4 linked regions of the Homo sapiens genome follow. The protein of the gene in region 2 purifies or fractionates together with the protein of the main gene of each other region. This does not show direct contact. Each region holds a gene or a part of one and is shown on either strand. Other genes may lie near its edges. The genes, in order: NMT2, ZNRF1, TSEN2 and NCEH1.

The links.
Region 1: the proteins of ZNRF1 (region 2) and NMT2 purify together in Homo sapiens (affinity purification with mass spectrometry; 3 studies listed by BioGRID and IntAct, with this or other methods). This does not show direct contact.
Region 3: the proteins of ZNRF1 (region 2) and TSEN2 purify together in Homo sapiens (affinity purification with mass spectrometry; 2 studies listed by BioGRID and IntAct, with this or other methods). This does not show direct contact.
Region 4: the proteins of ZNRF1 (region 2) and NCEH1 purify together in Homo sapiens (affinity purification with mass spectrometry; 2 studies listed by BioGRID and IntAct, with this or other methods). This does not show direct contact.

What each region holds. Positions count from the first base shown.
Region 1 is NC_000010.11:15,158,683-15,165,716, forward strand, and holds part of NMT2 (glycylpeptide N-tetradecanoyltransferase 2), read right to left. Parts: intron 1,355-7,034; exon of another isoform or gene 1,151-1,354; intron 1-1,150.
Region 2 is NC_000016.10:75,002,021-75,009,054, reverse strand, and holds part of ZNRF1 (E3 ubiquitin-protein ligase ZNRF1), read right to left. Parts: intron 6,813-7,034; coding exon of another isoform or gene 6,685-6,812; exon of another isoform or gene 1,977-6,684; intron 1-1,976. UniProt on the Homo sapiens protein: E3 ubiquitin-protein ligase that plays a role in different processes including cell differentiation, receptor recycling or regulation of inflammation. Mediates the ubiquitination of AKT1 and GLUL, thereby playing a role in neuron cells differentiation.
Region 3 is NC_000003.12:12,529,472-12,534,184, forward strand, and holds the end of TSEN2 (tRNA-splicing endonuclease subunit Sen2), read left to right. Parts: intron 1-290; coding exon 291-402; intron 403-1,383; coding exon of another isoform or gene 1,384-1,407; exon of another isoform or gene 1,408-1,691; intron 1,692-2,098; coding exon 2,099-2,188; intron 2,189-3,190; coding exon 3,191-3,250; 3' UTR 3,251-4,187; downstream 4,188-4,713.
Region 4 is NC_000003.12:172,631,068-172,638,101, forward strand, and holds part of NCEH1 (neutral cholesterol ester hydrolase 1), read right to left. Parts: intron 5,021-7,034; coding exon 4,849-5,020; intron 3,026-4,848; coding exon 2,408-3,025; 3' UTR 1-2,407.

The sequences.
Region 1 (7,034 bases), on a different chromosome or scaffold from region 2:
TGAGGTGTGTCTTAGTTCAGCCTGCTATTACAGAATACGATAGACTGATTACTTAAAGAAAAGACATTTATTTCTTACAGTTCTGGAGGCTGGAAGTCCACCAAGATCAGGGTGCCAGCAGGGTCAGGTTTTTGGTGAGGGCCTTATTCTTGGCAGAGCAACAAAGCACTGGACTCTATCTCTTTATAAGCATACACTGATCCGATTCATGGGGACTCCACCCTTGTAAGCTATTTACCCCCCAAAGGTGCCACCTCCAGACACCATCACGTTGGGGATTTAGGCTTCAACATATGAATTGGCAGGGAGATACAATTCAGTCCCAGCAAGGTGCCAGCATTGTTCACTATGTCCTTCCCTGAAAACTCCCTTTGCCCACAGGTCTCACCAAAGGTGTGGCCCTCAGTGGCCATGTTGTACCACACAATTCTCTTCTACCCCTCCCTTTCCCTTCTCCATCACAGTGGACTGGATCATGCCTGGATAATCCCTTTCTTGGCCAGAAACCAGTGAGATCCTTTCTGGAGAATCTGAACTAAGGAACAGATGCTTGGGGCAGTCTAGTTGACAGAGACTGAGACAGAAAGGGAGAGAGGTTAGAAAGACAGATGGACCTTGGGTACTTGACTTTCTATAATGTTTAATTCTAATAAAGTCCAGCCATACTTTATTTTCAGATAACCTATTGTATATTTAAATAAAACCTCCTTAAAATATTTATTTATTTATTTATTTATTTATTTATTGAGACAGAGTCTCACTGTCGCCCAGGCTCACTGGAGTACAGTGGCACAATCTCGGCTCACTGCAGTATGTGCTTATAAAGTGATCTCCATCTCTCGGGTTCAAGCAATTCTGCCTCAGCCTCCCGATTAGCTGGGATTACAGGTGCCCGCCATCGTGCCAGACTGATTTTTGTATTTTCAGTAGAGATGGGGTTTCACCATGTAGCCCAGGCTGCTCTCGAACTACTGACCTCAGGTGATCCACCCGCCTCGGCCTCCCAAAGTGCTGGGATTACAGGCGTGAGCCACTGCGCCCAGCAAAATAAAACCTTTTACTCTAGCTGGTTGGTAGATGCTACACACACATTAAGCAACAGACGCAAAGACCCACATCTCCCATTTGTGATTGTGGACAAGGAACTCACCTCTAGGAGCCACAGCTTGGGGCAGGAGAATGAGGGTCTTCCCGAGCAGAGGGCTGGGGAGATGAGGTGAGAGCAACTGGGAAAGATGTCACGGGAAAGATACACTCACTAAGAGCTACAGGGCTTCCGGCAGGGGTCAGCGCCTTTGGTCATAGTGGCTGCGGAAGGCTTCATGAAAGAAAGGACATTTGGGCTGACCTTGAACTTAGAGAAGAGGAGAAGAAAGATCAGGAGACACTCTCAGAAGCAGAGGAAGCCATGACCCACAGAAAGGCGTGAGCAGTAACAAATTCCTCTTGGTGAACAATGATGTCTGACACTGAATTCAAAGTTGTTTTCTGCGCTACTCTGTAATCAGACCTCCCTCCCTCCCCATTAGCCACAAACGCTTCAGCAAATGCTGTGCACAATAGCTGGATTTTAGTGATTCCTGGGAGGAGGGTGGTGAGAGACACAGAACTGAAGATAACCGTGTTCCACCCAAGGTCAAATGTTGAAGAAAAAGAGCACCCTAAGGACACACAGGCACAAGGAGCCCGGTGATGGGGCAAGTTGGCTGCAGTGTGGGTGTGCCTGAGGACCATGAAAACTTAAGACCCCAAGAAACCCCCATGAACATGTATCAGCTCAGGCCATTTTGTTTAGATAGTAAAGGAAAGGTGCCAGGTGCAGTGGCTCACACCTGTAATCCCAGCACTTTGGGAGGCTGAGGTGGGGAGATTCCTTGAGGTCAGGAGTTCGAGACCAGCCGGCCAACGTGGTGAAACCCCGTCTCTACTAAAAATACAAAAATTAGCTAGGCATGGTAGTGTGCGTCTATAATCCTGCCTACTTGGGAGGCTGAGGCAGGAGAATCGCTTGAACCTGGGAGGTGGACGTTGCAGTGAGCAAAGATGACGACACTGCACTCCAGCCTGGGCAACAGAGTAAGACTCCATTGCAAAAAATAAAAAATAAAGGACAGGCGATCCCAGCATGTGAAAGGACATGGAAACCCTTTGGTAATAGAACAACAGGGAAAAAATGCCAGAAGCTTCTAGACTGAAAACAAGTTAAAACAGACAAAAAGAATAAGATTACCTATAAAAGACAGAGAAGCAGAGAAAACAGCATCTGGCCAGGCACAGTGGCTCACACCTGTAGTCCCAGCACTTTGGGGAACCGAGTCAGGTGGATCACCTGAGGTCAAGGTCAGGAGTTCGAGACCAGCCTGGCCTGGGTGACAGAGCGAGACTCTGCCTCAAAAATCAAAAAAAAAAAAAAAAAAAAAAAAAAAAACACAAAGAAAACAACATCTGTACCAGTAAATACTGGAAGATATTAAAACGTTTATGGAGTTTCAAGGAAAACGATTGTTATCATAGAGTCACATGCACACCCAGGCTATGTATTATGTGGGAGGGGAAAAGAATGGCATTTTCAGACATGCAAGAACTCAAAATACATCATCCACGCACTCTAAGAAAAAAAATCATGTGAGAATGCTGTTAAAGAAGAAAAAGACAGGATGTGTTTTATTTTTTACTTTTATTTTTTTGAGACAGAGTCTTGCTCTGTCGCCCAGGCTGGAGTGCAATGGTGCAATCTCGACTCACTGCAACCTCCACCTCCTGGGTTCAAGTGATTCTCCTGCCTGCCTCAGCCTCCCGAGTAGCTGAGATTACATACGCCCGCCACCACACCTGGCTAATGTTTTTTTGTATTTTTAGTAGAGATGGGGTTTCACCATGTTGTCCAGGCTGGTCTCGAACTCCTGACCTCAGGTGATCCGCCCACCCCGGCCTCCCAAAGTGCTGGGATTACAGGTGCGAGCCACCACGCCTGGCCGGGAGGATGTGTTTTATAAAGAACGATGGAAACCCATAAAAACAATAAAGCTGTCAGGAAAGTCTAAAATGTTTTTGTTAACAGGAATGTGAAACATGTAATAGTTAAGAAAAAAGTCTCTAGTGACACAAGGGCAAAAATAAAAGAATTACAATTCCAGGTTATTTCAATTAAACCTAGGAAATGAAAAGAAGTCAAAATATCCTACATGATTTTTCTTGTGAGATGGTAGAATATTTTAAATAGTGGTTAATTTTTTGATATGGATAAAGAAATATAGATGAAAACATACTTGTTCAAAATGTACAGATCGCCGGGCACGGTGGCTCACGCCTGTAGTCCCAACACTTTGGGAGACGGAGGTGGGTGAACTGCTTGAGTTCAGGAGTTCGAGACCAGCCTAGACAACATAGTGAGACCCTGTCTCTACAAAAATACAAAAATTAGCCAGGTGTGGTGGCATGTGCCTGTAGTCCTAGCTACTTGAGAGGCTGAGGTGGGAGGATCACTTGAGTCCAGGAGGTCAAGGCTGTAGTGAGCTGAGATTGTGCCACTGCACTCCAGCCCAGATGACAGAGTGAGACCTTGTCTCAAAAAAAAAAAAAAAAAAAAAGTGTACAGATAATCCACAGAAGAAAAAAAGAATGAAAACTAGACATATTCTACCAAAGACAGGAAATAAAATACAGAAATTTTTGAGTACCAAGAAAGCTTATAAACAAAATTCAAAGACTGAATATGATCTGAGCTGTCCAGTATGATAGCCACTAGTCACATGGAGCTATTTAAATTTAAATTAATTCAAATAAAATAAAAACATTCAGCTCAGTCACACTTGTCACATGCAAGTGCTCCATGTGTTGATGACTGCCCAACTGGATTACTATCACCCCAGAAAGTTCCAGCACACAACAATAAGAGTCAGCGAAACATACATGGTAACAAATGCACCCAGGTACAGTAAGATCCCAGCGATGTTAAACACACACACATATTAAAAAGTGAGTTCATTAAACTATCAGTGGTGACAGCTCTGGGAAATAAGGTGACCAGGGGCTTTCACTCTACCTTATATACCTTATTGTTTGATATATATATATATTTTATTTATATATATATTTGATTTATATATCTCTATGTATTTGATATTATATATCTGTATTTGATATTTATATATCTCTATATATTTGATATTTATATATCTATATATTTGATATCTTTTGATATTTATATATGTGATATATATAAATATATACATATAAGAGAGAGATATATATATATGTATATTTTTAGACAGAGTCTCATTCTGTTGCCCAGGCTGGAGTACAGTAGTGCGATCACAGCTCTCTGGGCTGAAGCAATTCTCCCATCTCAGCCTCCCAAGTAGCTGGAACTATACGCATGCACCACCATGTCTAGCTCATTTTTTATTTCATCGAGATAGGGTCTTGCTATGTTCCCCAGGTTGATCTTGAATTCTTGGCCTCAAGCGATCCTCCACCTTGGCTTCCCAAAGCACTGGGATGACAGGCATGAGCCACCACACCTGGCCCTATTGTTTGATTTTTGAATAAGCGTATTTTTAAAACGTCATTAACATGTTTTCAAAGAAAACAACAATCAATTTCTTGAACTTGGAGTAGAACTTGGTTCTGTTAAAATAAAGTGATTTTAACTAGTATAGATGTATAACGTACATTTGCACTAACAAACAAAGATGGCAAAGTATGTGTCCTATATTTAGACAACCCTGGAAAAAATTTGTTCTGGGCCAAAGGGTGACATCACCCATTCAGATGCAAGTCTTAGCAGACACTTGATCATTTCAAACAGTAGTTCTTGATTTGAGGAGGTCCCTCAGGCAAAGACTGTCGTTAATCTATTTTTCCATTTAGATTTATACAGTTGATAACAGATCAAATTTCAGAAAGGGCAGCTTTGAGTTATCCCTAAATTTTCCATAAGAAAAACTTATTGCAAGTCATAATGTTTCTGCATTTTCCCACTGATACCACACAGCTGACAAAGGGGAAGTTCCCAACTCAATTTCAACAACAGACATATGAAGTCAGATACAACAACATAGTGCCCAAAGAAGAACTTCCTTTTTTTACCCCCTAAATTGGGGATGGTAGAAGACAGATTATGTTCTTTGTTAAAAGAATTCCAAAGTTTTCATCTTTGTCCAATACCAGATCTTCAATCTTTCTAAGAAAAAGAACTCTTAAAAACGTCTTAGGCCGGGGACGGTGGCTCACGCCTGTAATCCCAGCACTTTGGGAGGCCGAGGCGGGCGGATCACAAGGTCAGGAGATGGAGACCATCCTGGCTAACATGGTGAAACCCCGTCTCTACTAAAAATACAAAAAAATTAGCCAGGCGTGGTGGCGGGCGCCTACTGTAGTCCCAGCTACTCCGGAAGCTGAGGCAAGAGAATGGCGTGAACCTGGGAGGCAGAGCTTGCAGTGAGCCGAGATCGCGCCACTGCACTTCAGCCTGGGGGACAGAGCGAGAATTGGTCTCAAAAAAAAAAAAAAAAAAAAAAAAGGTCTTAACCCTATTTCATGTCTACCCCAGGGACTAATTTAGTCATGTATCTGCCAACAAAAACATACTCACCTATGTTTATTTTGGTTCCTATATAAATCTTCTTAGTAGCTGCTTCCAGTGAATATTGAGGGAAAAGCTCTCTTAACGGAAAGCTATGAGAAACATCTATTTTTCTAGGAAGTATATGCTCTCTGTAAGTCAATGTTGGTTAAGCAAGGGGACAGATTTGGTTTTGTTACCAAAGTTCAACACGAATTTTATTTGACTCTGTCTCCAACAATGGACCATAACATTAGCTCAGTAAGAGATCATGACCAATACCAAATGTATTTCATAACTGGAGAAGCCGGACATCAAAAGGACAGCGAGAAGACAGTGGGTTCTAAATAATTCTTCAACAATTTGGCCTGTCCTCAATGTCCCCAAAGCCCTTCAGAAGAAAGTAACAGAAGGCAAAAACACAGCAAAATGAGGGAAGTATTAAAGATCCTTGAGCATCTTAACCTCAGATCCAACGGTGAAAGCTCCTAGGAAATTCATCCTCCAGGCCGGGCACCATGGCCTGTAATCCCAGCACTTTGGGAGGCCGAGGCCAGGGGATCACCTGAGGTCAGGAGTTCAAGACCAGCCTGACCAACATGGTAAAACCCCATCTCTACTAAAAATACAAAATTAGCCAGGTATGGTGGCACACGCCTGTAATCCCAGCACTTTGGGATGCAGAGGTGGGGATCACCTCAGGTCAGGAGTTTGAGACCAGCCTAACCAACACGGTAAAATCCTGTCTCTATTAAAAATACAAAATTAGCTGGGCGTGGTGATGCACGCCTGTAATCCCAGCTACTTGGGAGGCTGAGGCAGGAGAATTGCTTGAACCCGGGAGGTGGAGGTTGCAGTGCGCCAAGATCGTACTATTGCACTCCAGCCTGGGTGACAAGAGCAAAACTCCATCTCAAAAAAAAAAAAAAAATCATCCTCCAGGTCACCTTTTTGTACCACTGCCACCCATAGCAGAACAGAAATCTTCAGTAATCTGGACTATTTCTAATAATTCATATAGGAAGCTGGACTGAGGTTAATTTTTATCTATGTAGAAAGTCTTTCCAGGCTCCTTCAAGCTCTTTATAAAGACCTACTCCCTAATTCTAATTGCAAATCGTGTGTTAAAGTAAGTTATATAAAGATGTCTTTAGGCAATCCTCTATTAGCCTGGTTCTAATTGCCAAACATTGTTTGAAAATAATAAAATTATACTTGTCTGAATATAGTCTCACTAATTAAAACTGACAATCCCTTCTTCCCCCATGTTTTTTGTAATTCATGAAAGTTTTATAGTGGTTTGCCACTTCCACGCTTGGGTGGACCAAAAAGTTAAAGAGTACATTTAACTCTTTACACTGGCTTACACCTGTAATCCCAGCACTTTGGGAGGCCGAGGCAAGCATATCACCTAAGGTCAGAAGTTCGAGACCAGCCTGGCAAACATGGTGAAACCCCATCTCTACTA
Region 2 (7,034 bases):
CAAAGATACTGAAATTAAAGATGCACATGAAGAGTCTGAAAATCAGTTTTTCTTTTGATATTCTCACTGAGAGGACAGAGGACCCCTCATACTGAGACATACGAGGAATTTCTTGGTAGGTACTTAGCTGGAATCACAAAGAAAAGATCACCTGCCCCAACCCAGAAATAGGGCTTTGGAAAAAAATGAGTGAAGAGAAGTATATCCTTGCAGCAGCCTTATGGACAAACACCTACATTTATTTGTTTATTCAACAGAGGAGCTGATGAAAAGGTAAAATCTCCCAGAAGCTAAAATATTCAGACTCTTAAGGAGTGAGGAAGCAAAGATTCTTGGAAAGAATAAGTTAATTGCTCTATAATAAATATATATATTCTCAGCACCTACCATAGGTCCTGGTATACCAGAGGCTATCAATGGAATAAATGAACGTTTTTGTTCAACAGATCATCACACACAAAGAAAAAAAAGTCTTATACTTTTGGGTCAGTCAGAGAAAAGGAAAAACAGGTCTTCCAACCTCTTTAAAGCCTAGATTCATCCTAAGCTCTTGACTTGTCTAGCTGCCTGGCTGAAGATGTAGGAAAGAGGGTAACTCAGGAAGCCCTTCTGTAGCACCAGAGCCAAAGAAGAAAAGTCAGGAGGAAGACAAGTGCAGAAGGAAAGGCGACACTGACACCATTACCTTCTGTTCAGAGCAACTTCAATTCTCAGACCAAGGCAGATTGGCTTGGCCCTATATGTAGGCAATAATGCTTAGTCCCATGTAAAAGAAAACCATCAAATAGCCAACAATGTTGTTCCTGGTTGAACCTACCTTCTGCGAGCTGTAGAGATTGCTTAGCAAATATCTGACTAGAAATACTGAAAATAAAGGCCAGGCACAGTGGCTTCACACTTATAATCCCAGTATTTTGGGAAGCTGAGGTGGAAGGCTCACTTGAGGCCAGGAGTTCAAGACCAGCCTGGGCAACATGGTGAGACCCCTTCTCTACCGAAAAAAGAAAAAAAAAGTAAAAAAATTATCTGGTCATGGTAGCATAGCATCTGTAGTCCCAGATACTCCAGAGGCTAAGGCTTGAGAATTGCTTGAGACCAGGAGTTCCAGGCTGCAGTGAGCGTGATCTTGCTATTGCACTCCAGCCCGGGCAACAGAAGAAAAACCTTTCTCTAAAGAAAAATAAGAAGAAAAAACAAATAAAAAGAAAGCTAATGAATACACCAAAAAAGGATTCAAAGTTTATTTCTCTGTTTGGGGAGAGAAAAACTAAATGCTTGGTGGAGTTTAGTTTCAGATGTAGAAGGTCTTCTTGTTTTCAGGTTCATTTGTTACAAACTTAGATTCTTGGGTCTCCAGCTCTACTGAATTCTGTGAGTGGGGTCCAGTCATCTGCATCGTTAACTACCTCCCTAGAGAATACTGAGCACCTTTAAGAACCCTTCTGAACCATTCACAGAAATCAGGAGAGCTCTTGTTTTTATCTGCCTCTTTCTTGTTACAGATCCAAGAGGTCACTATAAATTCTTATCATGCCTCCCCTAAGTTGGAATTCACAGGGATCCAGTGAATTATTCCTTCCTCCTTTCTCCCAACAGAGGAAAGCTGTGTGTTCAAGACTAACGACTCTAGGGAGGTCTCAAGGTAAACAGTCTCATCAGTCTAGAAACTATTTCAGCTGCTGCTTTAGGATTAAATTTGGGGTCTGGCATCGTCGCTGACACCTGTAATCCCAGCACTTTAGGAGGCTGAGGCAGGAGGATCGCTTGAGCCCAGGAGTTTAAGACCAGCCTGGGCAACAAATGGAGACCCCATCTACACAAAATTAAAAATTAGCCAGGCGTAGCGGCATCCGCCTGTAGTCCCAGCTACTCAGGAGGCTGAGGAAGGAGGATCGCTTGAGCCCTACAGGCTGAGGCTGCAGTGAGCCATGATCGTGCCACTGCACTCCAGCCTGAACAAAGCGAGACCCTGTCTTAAAAAAAAAAAAAAAAAAAGATTAAACTTGGTTATTTGCTTCACACTTCACACTTGAGGGCTGGTCTTCAGGTTATTCACTCATACCCACAACTCATCCTTCATCCATACAGCACATAAAGGACAGAAACCCAACTGCTGGATTCAAGGATAAACCTGTGTTCTAGTGAGAACCTAAGATTCAGAAGTGAAAACTGCTGGGTCTCTAAGAATCCCCTTCTCACACTCAAGACTGAACCCATGGTAATTACTATGAACCATCTGATTCAGACTAGGCCATGAGAAAGCTTGGAAAAGAAACAGACTGAAATTTATATTCACCCATCATCCTAAAAGACTGAGGTGGCCAGGCACGGTAGCTCATGCCTGTAATGCCAGCACTCTGGGAGGCCAAGGCAGGTGGATCACCCGAGGTCAGGAGTTCGAGACCAGCCTGGCCAACATGGTGAAACCCTGTCTCTACTAAAAATACAAAAACTAGTCAGGCGTGGTGGTGCATGCCTGTAATCCCAGCTACTTGGGAGGCTGGGGCAGGCCAATCACTTGAACCCGGGAAGTGGACGTTGCAGTGAGCTCAGATCATGCCACTGCACTCCAGCCTGGGTGACAGAGTGAGACTCTGTCTCAATAAACAAACAAACAAACAAACAAACTGACTGAGGTTAAGATTTAGGTTTTGGGCTAACTTCAAGATTCTAGAACCACAACCTTAGTGATCCACTGTCATTAAAAACACCCCTACCTAAGGATGAGTAGGAGCAGAATCAATATCCCATTTAAGTTACCACCACTTCCCTATGAAGTTTTTCTAATTTTGAAGCTGTCAAAATTGAAGCTTAGTTTTATAATTGGGTATACAGCAGTACCCCTTGTCCAAGGCTTCACTTTCCATAGTTTCAGTTACCCGTGGTCAATGGAGGTCTAAAATATTAAGATACCATGACGCACCACCCTACATGCATGGGTCAACAAGCAACTGCATACATGATGGTGGTCCCGTAAGACTATATCCTGTACCTTTTCTATGTTTAGACACACAAATACTTACAACTGTATTACAATTGCCAACAGTGTTCAATACAGTCACATGTTGCACAGGTTTGTAGCCTAGGAGCACTAGGAGCAACATATAATCTAGGTATGTAGCAGGCTATACCACCTAGGTCCGTGTATGTACACCCTATGATGTTTGCCCAGTGACAAAATCCCTTAATGACCCATTTCTCAGAAAGTATCCCTGTCATTAAGCAATGCATGACTGTACTTTCGAGACAGGGAGAGAGAGAGAGAGAACACATTCACATAACTTTTATCACAGTATATTGTTATAATTGTTCTATTATTAGTTACTGCTGTCGAGCTTTTATTGTGCCTAATTTATAAATAAAACTTTATCAAAGGTATGTATATACAGGAAAAGACATAGTAGATATAGGGTTCAGGTGAGGTACTATCCACGGTTTCAGGCATCCACTGTGGGTATTGGAACGAATCCCCTTTGGATAGGGAGTAACTACTATACTCAAATTTCTGTGCCCAATAAGCTTGGGGTGAATACCACATATGTAAAATACAAAGCATGTTCCTTTTCCCAAAAGGAACTAGAGCTTGCTTCATTTCTTTGGCTAAGAATGGCCTAAGTATTCCTTGTGACATGATATATTGAGGTGGGTCTTTGTTTAATATCAAAATGTAGTATCCCATAAAGCAAACGCTTTAAGAGCTAAGCCACTGTTTCTTACAACACCATTCAAACCTCAATAAGCAAGAGTTAACTATGACCTTCAAGAAATTATCTTTGCCTCGGGGTAACTTTTGTATTTTAAGAAAATAAGCCCTCATGGTAATAAAGAGCTAAAAATTCTGCTTTTTAATACAAGTTTTCATTAACAATAGAACTTTTGCAGGGCAGGAGACCCATCATGCTCTTTGGAGACCACAGAATGCTTTTCCTTCTCCAGAAACCATGTGAAGGCCCATTACTTCTAGCACACCTATGGCGGGACACAAAGGCTTTCTGATTCACTCCAAGGGAGCTGGCAATTCTCCCCCATTAGCTAACAATAAAAGAAAATTAAATCACTTGAGAACCCTACAGTGGCAGCAAAATAGAGCCCAAGAGATACCTCCTAGCATGTTCAAAGACTTATTAAAAGCCACGTTGGGCCAGGCGTGGTGGCTTATGCCTATAATCCCAATACCTTGGGAGGTTGAGGTGGGAGGATTGCTTAAAGCCCGGAGTTTGAGGCCAGCCTAGGCAACATAGTGAGACCTCATCTCTACAAAAGATTGTATAAAATTTAGCCAGGTGTAGTGGTGCGCACCTGAGTCCCAGCTACTCTGGAAGCTGAGATGGGAAGACGGCTTGAGCCCAAGAGTTTGAGGCTACAGTGAACCATGATTGCACCATGGCACTCCAGCCTGGGCAACAGAGCAAGACCCTGTCTCAAAAATAAATAAATAACAAAAACAAAACACAATCACCTTGTATCAGTCTCAGTTGATGGCTTGATGACAATAAAGAACAGTTTAGACTTTCTGAAAGTGCATACATATATATACACATATGACTAAGAAGGTGAAGTGAAGCCCTCAATGGCCAGCCCTTTTATAGTAGAACCTAGAAAACAGCAACTTCTTTCAACATGGTGGATGGTGCATGTTTTGTACCCCACATTTAGAAATCCATACTCTGAGACAAACAGAACTACCGAAAGAGAATGACCAGGCCTCCAGAATAGCACCGAGGCAGCCATCAGGAGTTATAGCAAAACTTTTTAACGTGGAAAGGGAGTCACTCTGCTTCTATAAAGCAGCCCTTATCAGCGGCATTATGAGTAAAAGCAGCCCACTAATGCAGGCCAGACTTTAGGACACAGAACCAGATTCCATTTGGGGGCTACAGCTAGCACAGCTGTAAACCTCTCTCCACCCATCAAATTCTGAGACCATTAGGCCTGGCACGGTGGCTCATGCCTGTGGTCCCAGCACTTTGGGAAGCCAAGCTGGGAGGATCAACTGAGCCCAGGAGTCTGAGACTGCAGTGAGCTATGATCTCGCCACTGCACTCCAGCCTGGGTGACAGAATAAGACCCTGTCTCAAAAGAAAAAAAAAAAAAATCTGAGGCGATTGAAGGCAGACAACTATAAGAGAGTGCCCCCATAGGAACTCCACCACTCTCCATTTAGAATGTCCTTTGACTTTTGTGCACATTATCTCATGAGACCCTCACTATGACTCTGAGAGGTAAGCAGGACAGGCGTCTTCTACATTTTACAGATGAATAAATTGTGACTGAGGTTAAATGACTCGCTTGCCCAAGGTCACAAATCATGCAGCTAATCAGCTGCCTAACCAGGAGATGAGCCTAGCACTCTGACTCGTAGGCCAGCGCAATCTCCAGGACACCATGCGGCTTTGTGATGTTTTCAGATAAGAGGCGGAAGAGGGTACTGGTTAAGAGCCCAGGTTCTGGCACCAGCCAACCTGCATTCCAATCCCATCTCCACCACCTACTAACCACCTGATCTTGTGTGAGTTCCTTAACCTCCCCAAACCTGTTTCCTTACCTGCACAATGGGGGTGGGAGAGAACAGTCTTACTCCATAGAGTCAGAGTGATGATTAAGTGAGATGATGAACATAAAGTACTCAAATTCATGTACTCAAAAAATGTGAGTGGCAGGCACAGTGCAGGACCCACAACAGAGATCAAGGAACACAGTCCTGCTCTCACGGAGCTTAGACTTTAGGCAAACCATACACAGAAAAAAGTAAACAGATAAAATACTTACAAAGTGTGTTAAGAATGATTAAGGTGCAGGGCGCAGTGGCTCACGCCTGTAATCCTATCACTTTGGGAGGCCGGGTCAGGCAGATCACCTGAGGTCGGGAGTTTGAGACCAGCCTGATAAACATGGAGAAATCCCGTCTCTACAAAAAACAAAATTAGCCCCAAGCTTATTGGGCATGGTGGCGCATGCCAGTAATCCCAGCTACTCGGGAGGCTGAGGCAGGAGAATTGCTTGAACCCGGGAGGCGGAGACTGCAGTGAGCAGAGGTCGCACCACTGCACTCCAGCCTGGGCAACAAGAGCGAAACTCTGTCTCAAAAAAAAGAATGATTAAGGTAACAGGTGAGTGACTGGAGAGAATAACCGGAGGGGCCAATTTTTAAGAGTGGTCTCTAAGCCCTAAGGGATCAGAAAGAGAAATTCGTGTGAAGAACGGAGAGAAAAGCACTCTAGGATTAGGGAATGGTATACGTGGGGGTCACAGCACAGGGAAGTCAGGAACCTAGAGAAGACAAATGTGACTACAGCGCTTCCTCTCCCGGGATTTGCGGAGCAAGGCTGGAGCTCGTGAGGGTGACCACAACTATTTTAAAAACGACAAAGATAAGGCTCAAGAGAGGGGATATGTCTTGCCCAAGGTCACAGCTGCTCAGAGGAGTAGCTGGGACCAGGGCCCTTCAGTATTCTACCTCCAGACCCAGCCTAAGCCCACGCTCTCTGAGAAGGCCTTGTATACACTGAACTCCCTCATGTATTTCACTGACAACTGTTTTCTGTGCCCATGAAGAGTTGCAAGAGCACCTTGAAAACACAAGCAAACATATCATATCAACTTCCAGGCATCTAATTAATTGTGCACCAAAATCGTTACCCTTCCAATCTTGCAACAGAAGAGCAAAAGCTGCTTAGACCTTACTCAAAGGCTCCAAAGCAGAAACAAGTTTTGCTTCTTGCAGCAATGTGTAACAGAGGAAACAGATGTCCTGGAAGATCCCATGGTCTGTTTCAGGTGAGATGGAACCAATGCTGCACACGAAGATTCATCTCAAATGAAATGCACAGGAAAAGCCAATTACTTTATGTGAATAAAAGAATAAATCCCTAAAGCAGTGGTTCTCAACCAGAGTGATACCACCCACACCCCAGAGGGCATTTGGGAATTCTTGGGGACATTTTGGGGTGACACACTGAACTGCTGGATGCTATCAGCATTTAGTAGGTATGCTCGATGTCTTGCAGAAGGACATGATGGTCCTACACAGTAAG
Region 3 (4,713 bases), on a different chromosome or scaffold from region 2:
AAAAAAAAAAAAAATTAGTTAGTATTAGTGCCTAAACAGTTGTGTGAATTTACAGCTTTCACATTGGGAAAAGTATTTGTTTTTTCCTGTAAGTTTTGGAATCAGCCTGAAAGTTTGTAACTTAAAGTATGAATTTTTCATTAATATTTTCTCAATAGCAATTTAGGGGAATTTAGAATCAGATGATGCAAATTTCATTTTCTGTATATTTGTTCTTGGTAGGACAAATATTCTTTTTAAACAGATTTATTTCATGATTACTTTTAACATGCTTTTTCTGTATTTTCCAGTTATTCTGTCATTATCGAGCTAGTTGATGACCATTTTGAAGGCTCTCTCCGCAGGCCTCTCAGTTGGAAGTCCCTGGCTGCCTTGAGCAGAGTTTCCGTTAATGTCTCTAAGGTAACACAACATCAGCTTTGCCATTGGAGTGTCACTTAAATGGTTCAGTTTTTTTTTTTTTCTTAAATGTAGTAGAATCAAAAAAGTTAGTTGTAGAAACTTCATAACATTCCTGCCAGTGACATGCTGGAAGATTTGGGGTCATTCGTACCCTTCCCTTATTGCGCTAGAAGTTGTCCTCCCCTCATGTTACATTTTATTGTCCCCTCCCTCCCAACTGCTGCTGAGCTCCAATGACGGAGCTTTGGAGTGTCCCATGGTGATCTGATCTGGGTAGGCATTGCTTCTCTTCCCAGGGGTATCGTTGCTATGTGACTTGTTTTATACTGCAATTTAACATTCACTCATACACATATTCACAAAGGAGTCAAAACATTGAAAGTTTGCAGATCTCTTAGAGAGGAAGGGACTTGATATTTGTTGCTAAGCACTTTCCCACCCTGTTGTTATCCTCATCCTGAGGATGAGAAACCAAGGTTGGAGCCGTTGAGTGGCTAATCCAAGATCACACAGCTCATGTGCATACTCGGGATCCAAACCCACAGCTCTCTGGCTCCCTGGCTTTTGTTTCACTATATCCTTCGTGTTGCCATCAGAGATAGGAGGGACTCAGCTTACACAAGGACTATCAAGAAAGAAAGCTGTGTGTGTTCTCATTACTCAGTGATTTGCTGGCTGAAAACAAATTGTAGATACCCTCTAATTTCATCCTCATGCTGCTGGAGGTGAGGTGGGGCTGAGGCCAGAGGGTCTTGCAGGGCTAGAGATGACTGCCCTTTAGAGCAGGTTAGGTTGCCTAGGCTTTAGCTTGGTCCTATAGAAAATTAGGGAGCCTATACTGTTTCTAGAATTTTTATGCCCATTTTAGGGGACTTGTAGCATATACTTAATATGTCCTCACTTAACATTGTTGATATGTTCTTGGAAACTGCAACTTTAATGTCGTATAACAAAACCGTTTTTTCTTCTCATCATTTCAAGAAAACAATGTTGAAGTTTATTTGAAGACCTGCTGTACATCTGTATTAGTCCATTCTCATGCTGCTATAAAGAAATACTTGAGACTGGGTAATTTATAATGAAAAGAGGTTTAATTGACTCACAGTTCCATGTGGCTGGGGAGGCCTCAGGAAACTTACAATCATAGTGGAAGGCACCTCTTCAGAGGGTGGCAGGAGCAAGAATGAGAGGATGAGTGAAGGAGGAAGCCCCTTATAAAACCATCACATCTCATGAGAACTCACTGTCACAAGAACAGCATGGGGACCGTCCCCCATAATCTAATCACCTCCCACGAGGTCCCTCCATGACACGTGGGGATTGTGGGAACTACAAGATGAGATTTGGGTGGGGGCACAGCCAAACCGTATCAACATCATTTCACTTAAAGTCCGTGTCCAAGAACCTATCAAGGACATTTGAGGACTTACTATATTTAGTATTCTTAATGCTGTGTTTATAATCAATGTATCTGCTTATATCTGTTGCCATGTTCAGTGATTACTAAACGGCAGGTACTTAGTCAGAACGTAAATCCCAGTTATGGTTTCCCCAGGAGGAAACTGATGTGCTCTGTGAGTTTCCACTTGGAGTGCACAGTGAGAGGGACTGGAGACCACCTGCATTTCCTGCTGATGCACCCAAATTTGTACTATTATTTTGTAGGATACAGAAGTGGTTTTTCATTTCTCAATAGGAACTTATGCTGTGCTATTTGATTAAACCCTCTACTATGACTGACAAGGAAATGGAGTCACCAGAATGTATGAAAAGGATTAAAGTTCAGGTGGGTAAACTCAGAGAAATTCATGTCATCCCAAAGATTCTGTGAATCATAGTGTATCTGGAACATGTGGTCCCAAGAAAATACATGAATACAGTTTTGCCTTGGTAACAGAGCCTTCTCAGGCAGGCTCTTAAGTCTCTCACCTTTTCCCCATTGAACCCATTGGACACGAAATCTATGCTGACTTCCTCTATTCCTTAATTCCCCACTTTATTACCTGTGATGTCCCCATCACTCAGCTGAAACTGCTCTCTTACAGGTGGCCTGTGACCCCCTGGCCAGGCCAGGACTTCTCACAGGTCTCATTCCCAGAGACCAGAGGTGTCCCTGTTGACTTGTTCCTGCTTCTGGGCTTCTGTATTGAACCAAGGCGCCTCCTGTCATCTTGGCTTGTTTCTCTCTGGTCTGGCCGAGTTGTCTAGTGTGTGTCCGTGTTTCTGCATTCCCTCCCTCTGTGTGTAGAGCCTTAACGTTGCCATTGGCTCCTCCCAACATCCAGTATGTCTTTGTTGTCGTCCTGTCTTCTTTTCACACCACCCTGCCCCTGCAGACCTGCTGGTCGGTCTCCAGGGCCCCAGCACGTCTTCCCTTCAGTTGGTCCCACTTATCTCCACTAGGCTAGTTTCTCATAAAATGCTCATCAACCTCATTTCTCCCTTCTCAGTAGCTGGCCCCGTTACAGCAATGCCATCACAGACCTAGCTCTAATGTAAAATGCTAGCTTTCATCCCGCCCACCTGTTTCTGAAATGTGCTAGTAGAATACCACAGCAGAGGCAAGCTTAGCTGTTAAAATCTTTGCCTGGTGAAAGTAGATACTGTATGCTTGTAAGGTTTATATTGTTACATTCATTTTCTCCAGATGTTTCTGTTCTAAAGGTGGGAACAGTATCATCATTATATAGACCGCCCTTTGTGAAATGTAGCTGTGGTGTCAGCTGTGGTGTCAGAATGGTCTTACATTTCTGTTTTAAGAAATGGTCTTTTTTTTTATTGGTTGTAGGAGGTGATTCTGAGTCGATGGGTTTCTTCACGAGAGAGGAGTGACCAAGACGATCTTTAACAATTCAACCTCAAATTTCTAATTTCACCAACAACTATTTATTGAGGGCTAGGTAAAAAGTTCTTTTTGTTGTAATCGTCCATTAATTCATAAGTTTTAAAGGGCATGGTGCTCCCAGCACCAGAAAACTATCAGTGTTTTTAAAGATAAATTACACAAGGGAGGAGAAAGATCCCTGTGCTAGGACTGCAGATTCTATACTTGCGTTGGCCTCTAACTCTCCAATCCAGAGCCTCCTGCCTCTGGCGTCAGTCTTTTCCCTCATCCACTCACTGGGGAGATTGGACTAGAGGAGTCCTGAGAGGACACTTCCAACAAGAGACATTTATTCTCTGATTTTACCTGAAAATGGTAGTAGTTTACATTTATACAGTACAGTTTATGAAGCACTTTCATACGCAGGCATCTCTTGTTACCTACATCTAAGCTGTTCCCGAAAGAGTGTTACAGAACACAACAGTATTGTACAATATTCGATAAGCATATCTTCACTGCACTTGTTATAAAAATGAGTGGTGAAATAATGTTTGGAGACATAATGAAAGCGATTAACATTTGGCAAAATATAATAAAGCCTTTTTGTAATTGGTGAGAAAGTCATGAAGACTTAAGTTGCCTCAGGGCATCTGGTGGCAAGAGGAGGGAGATGGGTGGCTGGGCATGGTGGCCCATACCTATAATCCCAGCACTTGGGAGGCCTTGGGAGGCCAAGGCGCATGGATCGCTTGAGCCCAGGAGTTGGAGACCAGCTTGGGCAACATGGTGAAACCTCCTCTCTACTAACAAAAATTATCCAAGCATTGTAGCACATGCCTGTAATTCCAGCTGCTCAGGAGACTAAGGTAGGAGGATCGCTTGAGCCCAGGAGGAAGAGGTTGCAGTGAGCGGAGATTGTGCCACTGCAATCCAGCCTGAGCAATAGAGCAAGGTCCTGTCTCAAAAAAAAAAAAAAAAAAAAAAAAAAATGTGGGTGGTGGGGAAATGGGAAGGGGGAATACTTGCTCTTCGGTGGTAGAATACTTAGGCTAAGGTGGTAGCCTGAGCTGTATCCTCTTAATGGGTCCAGACACTACTTGAATGATATTGCTGCAAACCCTTACATGTTTGTTATATTTAATTTGGATAGCCAATATGGGGTAAAATATTTTGCAAACCGTGATAGCAAACATTTGGAGAGTGGGAGTTGAGATGCGGCAGATGCCTGTGTATTTATCCCTGCAGCAGCCTTGTGAATTCAGGAGGAGGGACCCACAGAGGGGTGTTTGAAGCTCAGAGATGTTGGCGGGTGTGCATCACTACCAGTCATGCACGTGGAGGACTGGACCTGAGATCACTATCTCAGCTGAAATGGCGCTATCCTAAAAATTGCATGCAGTCAGAAATAGAGCCCTGTTTGGTGGTGGTGGTGGTTAACAAGGAAGGCCACCCACCACATCGGGCAGGGCCAGCTTTGTGCTCCCACA
Region 4 (7,034 bases), on a different chromosome or scaffold from region 2:
AACTAAAAGAACAATGAAACTCAAGTACATTATCAGAAACAGTGGTTGACCTCTTTTTTCCTTTACTCCCTTTTCATCTGAGAGAGCCTTTTAGAGATCCGGAATCATTTGCTGTCTGCAATTACTATAGGCTTTGGCTCACAATTCTGGGGAAAATGCCAATTGAAGGAACCCTGCCTATACATTTTATTTTCTTTTTCTTCGAGACAGACAACCTCAAAATAAGGTCCAAATATTGGTTCCTTCAAATGGTGTCAAAAAGAATAGTATTATATGAGGAGGATAGTTATCACAGAATAAGAACTAAAATCCCATTTTTTTTTTTTAGGAAAAAAAGACCTTCGATGATGCAGGTGTCTGTGTATAAGGAACTATGACCTACCAAAAAAACCACCACATAAGGAGAGGCCAATATAATTTGCCAGTCTGACAAGACAGTTGGTATTATAAGTGGAAGAGACCTCAAGGATCACATAATTCAGCTCTTTGATTTTAGAGGGAGGAAAGACGAGGCCCAGAGATGGGAAGTGGCTTGCCTAAGTACATTAGCAAGTTAGCTTCAATGGTTATTTTTATACACACACAGGCACACATACATACTGTTGCATTGACTTCTGTTTTGTACATAAAATGCTACTGGCTCATACAATACATCAATAAGTATGCAACTTTTCATTTGTTATTTCGTTGCTGGAAGTGGGAAATACCCCATCTTCCCAGGAGTGAAATGGTTCTACTTTCTCTCCGTGGTGCCCTGTATCATTACTCAGCTCTGCTGCTGCTCTCCGCAGCCCCTAAAAGTAGCATGGATCGGGGAAGAAGGAAGGACGGCAGGAAGGCAGGCAGAGATCCTCAACTCAAATCACAATTGGAGTGTCTTGTTGTGTCAAAGATGTTCCCACTGGCAGTGAAGACTTTACATGAAGTTAAGCTTGGGCTGTTGAAACTTCCAGACCTGGCTGGAAGGAGGAGATGGGGGATCTAGGCAACACCAGGTGCCAGTGTACGCCCTTCACTCAGAACATGAGCTTGTGTTCCTCTGACCCTAAAAAGCGGAGATGAGCAGTGTGTGCCTTGCCTAAGCTACTGAACTATAAACCTAGATGACTTTACTAGGCGCAGTCATAGTTTCTAATTATTTTAACTTGTATATGCATATAAACACGAAAATATTTATGCCTATGTTATAGTAGTATTAATAGCTGTTATATCATTTCCACAAAATTACACGTGGTTATAACTGTAGGGAAGGTTTTAAAACCCTAAGGCAGTTTTTTAAAAAATACCATTGTTTTTAATATTTATTATGGACATCTTTCTGAAAAACCTTAAGTCTAGCTATGTATATTAACATTAAATAACTTAAAAAAATAAACAATACATTATATTGTAGCAAAATAGCTCCATTTTAAAGCCATATAAGTGAAAAAATTGAGTTTTCAATAATAGACTAGACCTTCTAAAGGTATTTTTAACAATTTTGAACTAATATTAAATGTATTTTCTTTTTTGACTATGCCAAGTATATTCACACTGCTCTTGGTACTTTATGTCAGAAGTATTTTTATGTGAAACACTAGGTTGTTTCATTTGTCTGTTTTTACTTGCTCTATAATGAAAAGTTTACTCTAAATCTAAATAAGTTTGCTCCCAAATATCTCCCCAAGGAGAAGGGGGACAGCATAACCAAAAACACAACAAAAACCTAATGATATATAGATATCCAGTGCATGCGACTTCATATTTTCTAATAGTGGTAGAAAGTAACTTTCAAGTATTCCTGTAATCCAACTGGACTTACAGATAGCGATCTCATAAAATGAACATTCTAGAGGAAGAAAGTCCTTTGAGAAACTTGTTCTTTCCAGAAAACCTTTGCCAAAATTCCCATAGGAAACAAAACCATCCATTCACAAAAGACCAGAGGGTACTTGGTCCCCAGTACTGACCTGAAAGTGCACGCATTTAATACTGCTCTGAACTCAAGGTTAACTCTAGCAGAATTAAGGAGTCCTCGTTTTTTTAACTTATTAAAGGTCACTCTATGATCCAGAGCTGGAAGAACTGCTTCTAAAAAGAACGTCCTAATGAAGGCAGGACCCAAAGTTATTTCCAGTTCCTAGTCCTGCTTTCTGTAGCTGTAGGTATCAGTATAGTTGGCTAAGATAACAAGAACAGAGAGATTGGCCCACTCTGGGAACCAAATTTACATGTTTTGCACTTAAGTTAGTCAAATTCATTTTTAAAAATTAGGTTATCATAAAGACTTCAGTTATGGAATAGAAATTCCATAACTCGCAAGTAGAGGGGAATGGGAGGAAGAATTAGTCAACTAAAAAGTGCATGTCTTTCCAAAGCAGGTGTAGGAGGTCAAGAGGGGCTCGAGGCTTCTGGAAGTTTTGCTCCTTTACAGGTTTTGATCTAGCCACTTGATGTAACTATTCCTAGTCCGGATTCCCACTGAGAAGTTGGTGGGCCAGCTAGTGAAAATCATACATCCGTGAAAGCCATCCTCAAAGTGATCCAGGGTCACCTCCACACCGGCACTCTCCAAACGCTTGGCATACATGATGCCATCGTCTCTGAGGACATCATGCTCACACGTCAGAATGTAGGTCTTTGGGAGGAGCTGCAGCACTGCCTGGTCTGCAATGAGTGGGGCGGAGCGGGCATCCAGCAACTGAGGAAGCTCCTGGACAATCCTGGCATTGCCTGTGGTCTGTACAACAGGCTTGTAGTTCTTTGTGAAGGATGCAGGCAAGAGGGATGTCCAGTTTAGACGGGCCCTGACAGCAGCAGCCTCTTCCACATCAAGTGAAGTGTGATTGTTAACGATCATTGCCTGCACAAAGTCATAGTTGCCTTTGAAGTAGTCCACCCAATACTTCACCATGACATAGCGGGGCAGGATTGGGGTGTTCACATTTTGCTGATAAGATGGTGTGTTAAAATCTAAAGCTTGAAGAACTGGATAAATTAAAGCTTGTAGTTTGAGCTTATTTTTTAGGCTGGCATCTTGAGTAAACTAGAGAAGAGGAAGCAAATACATTATTTCATTTTGCATGCCTTCTTTTATAGGAACCATACCCTGTAGAGTAGCTTCATGTGTTACTCTGAATCTGTCAATGGTATAAGTGTTACATTTCTACCAGGCACTGTATAAATAATAAAGTTTAAAAAATAATTCTCCATCATTACCATCACCACCCTATCAAGCTGCTAGATATTTAACTAAGAAAGGTATGATGTTTACAACTCAGTTTTGAGTGAACCCTGTACTTGTATCTATCTTTAGGCAGTTAAGACACCTAGGTATTATGAATGGATAATGTGTGAACCTTATTTAATTTTTTATTCCCTACAAAACCCCCAAAAAGGTCATGGCTTCCTAGGGGGAAAAAAATTAGTCTTATTCTTCCAGAAGAGAGGGGCAGAAAAAACTTAATAAGCAGATTATGAGACTCCTGAGTGTTTAAGTAGGACCTCAGGGTATGCTTTCTGGTGAGCATCTTCACGCTTGGTGAGACAGAATTTAAATAGTTCTGGCAATGCACCCTCCATTCTACATAATGAGCATATGCCAGAGTGAAGTTGTCATGGGAATGTGAATGAATCCCCTACCTCAACAGATCTCAGTCCCCCAACACCTCCCCACAGTGTTAACATTGCCCCATTTTGTAATTCTAGTGTGCAAAATTATATATTTGTCGTGTAACATCTAAAAGAAAGCTAACTAGTCATGAAGCTTCATAGACAACTAAATGATCTTCAAGGTAACTTTAGCCATACACTTCTGCTTCATACTTGGACTTTAGAAACCCATTCCCAGGTGAGATATGACTGCTCTCCAAAAGCAAGAATGGTCAGTAAATAGCACTTTGAATATGTGCCAAAAATTGTATACACATCACCTCACTAAGTCCTTGCAACAGCCCTGCAATCAGATGACACTGTCCTCGTTTTTCTGAGGCTCAGAGAGGTTAAGGGACTTATCCAGGGCCCCGCAGCACTCAACGGTGGGTCCTGGGTTAGATCCCAGTGCTGTCTGGCTTCAAAGCCAAGAATGTTCTCTCCACTGAGCCAAGACTCTCTTCTGACCATATTTGGATGGAAAACTTGCCAATGCCAAATGGAAAATCAAGTTCTTGAATTATAGCAAAAGAGTTAGAAGCCAAGGTACATCATAATTAGAATGACAGATGGTATTTGAGGACACCAAATGAAATTTGGAGGTGAGAAGACAAAGATGTCTTAAGTTACTTCATCCATAACAGGAAGAAAATGTGCTTTTTCCCACTTGCCAAAAAAATTGGGGTGCTATTAGAAGCTAGATATAGTTTTCAAAGAATTAAACCAGGTAAAGCTCATAGTAACTTGTAAGATAATATTTAAATGGCTGAATCGTTTAATTTCTTTCTTTTACATTAAAAAAAAGTTGGGGAAACAAATTTTAAGGTTTTAATTTGGCTCAAAGTTGTAAGGAACAATCTTAGGAACTGGAATTTAAGCAAAAATACTCCGATTTGCAAGTCAAACATGAAAAAGGAGCAGGGGATACTGGAGTTCCATACATAGCCCTGAGAAGCAAGGGATGTCAGCCCTTCTCTAACACTGACTGTAATCAGGGACTTTACAAAGACTCATAGGTGATACTTCCTCCAATGACTCATCTTCCTACTTCAACGAGATCTCTGAGAGCTCTACAAGTGTAATCACATGAACAATTTGGCCATCTAGTGACCGGCCCACCCAGCTATGCATTTGCCACACATAATGGAGGGTGTGTTGGTCTGCTAGACCTTGTCATGCACCGCTTAACCCACCAGCACCTTAGGACAGTGGTGTTACCTGTTGTCCAAGGGCAGCAGCCAGATTTCCACCAGCACTGTCACCAGAAATGCAAATTCTGCCTGGATCAACCATATACTTCTGTAAGACTTCTGGCTTCAGGAAATACTTTGTGGCCCGTACAACATCATGAATTTGCTCAGGAAAATAAACCTTTGGAACTAGCCTGTATCTGTAAAAACAAAAGTTGTATTCATTTAAGGCCTTCTCCAATTTTGGGGGACATTTAAAGTTTAGATGGAAACTGGTTCTTTTAAATCTGGAAATAGATAAGAAATTAATTCAATGGAATTATTGTATGAAAAAGAAAAAATAATAAAATATAAAAATAAACCATTTTCTTGCAAATCAAATACTTAGTTTAAAATGTGATGATTTTGTATTAGTAATAGTACTATTTTTCTTTAAACTATCAGCCACCAAACCAAACCTACTTACCACCAAGAACAACCAAAATAAAACTAACAAGTAAAAGGCGAATGTTCATTACAAAGACATGGATAGCACCGTAATAGATTTTAGAATTTTATTTCTGGAAGTCAGCATTCCATTCATAATGCCTCTGGGTTACGAGGTGACTTGGCAGGATTAACCACTTCATTGATCTCACATTTAATGAGTCCATCATTTACTTCATATAATAAAACTGTACTTCACTGGAGAGGTCCATATTAGCCTGACATTAAACCCAAGAAATGCATTCAATACCTGGAAGACTGTAACTAAAAGGCCGGTTGTTAACTCACAAAAGGGAAGCTAAGTTTTCCAGACGGCCTAGAGCAGGCCCTCGGGGATACTTCTGGGGCTTCTCCAACTGGCCCCACTTCGCAAGATCAGAGTCCTTTGGAATCCTACTCTGTACACCTAGTAGAATTCATATCCCCTTAAGATTCCCAGAAAGCTCTGGTTTTGTCAAATGCCTCACCCATAGTGTTATCTTACACATCTACATTGGCAATCTTGGTTTAGAGTTCCCTCTCACTCTCTACTCCCCTCTTTTGCTTATTAATTCTCACTCATCCTTTAAGCCTTAACTGGAGGGTTTGGCCTCCTCTGGGCAGCCTTCCTTGGTCATATCTCCACTTGCTTTTGGGCTTGAACTGGCTACCATTCCTTGATATTTCTATGTGCCAGGGTACGTCACTCACTGTTCTTATTGGCTCATATGAAAATTATCATATGTTTTTCCTAAAGATTGTGTTCTCTGATATCAGGAACTGTGTTTTATTCATAACTGTGCTTCCAGTATCTGCCAATGTGAGGGGCACATAATCATCCATCCAATAAATCTTTTTTGAGTATTAACATACCTTCATTTTGCAAACGAAGAAACTAAGGCATACAAAAGTTACTTGATTTGCAAAAACTCAAAAACAGACCAAAATTAGGTAGGATAAAAACTAATTACCTAATTAAAAATTAATAACAGCCAATGAAGACTCAAGACTTTTGATTTCCATCTTATAATTAGCATACTTATTTTCACAAACTAATTTTTTCTAAGCTACTCTAAATAAAGACATTTATTTTCCACAGTCTAAAATCCAGCTAGTTGGGCTGAGAGCGGTGGCTCACACCTGTAATCCCAGCACTTTGGGAGGCTGAGGCAGGTGGATCACTTGAGATCAGGAATTCAAGACCAGCCTGGCCAACATGGTGAAACCCCATCTCTACTAAAAATACAAAAAAAGGGCCAGGTGCGGTGGCTTAGGTCTGTAATCCCAGCACTTTGGGAGGCAGAGGCAGTCAGATCACCTGAGGTCAGGAGTTCGAGACCAGCCTGACCAACATGGTGAAAACCCGTTTCTACTAAAAATACAAAAATTAGCCAGGCACGGTCGTGGGCGCCTGTAATCCCAACTACTCAGGAGGCTGAGGCAGGAAAATCACTTGAACCCAGGAGGCGGAGGTTGCAGTGAGCCGAGATGGTGCCACTGCACTCCAGCCTGGGTGACAGAGCAAGACTCCATCTCAAAAAAAAAATAGCCGGGCATGGTGGTATGCACCTGTAATCCCAGCTAGTTGGGAGGCTGAGGCCTGAGAATCACTTGAACCCAGGAAGTGGAAGTTGCAGTGAGCTGAGATCGAAAGAACAAGACCTGGGCGAAAGAGCAAGACCCTGTCTCAAAATAAAATCCTGCTAGGTAATTAAACATCTTGACATTCATTGTAGATAAAATCAAATG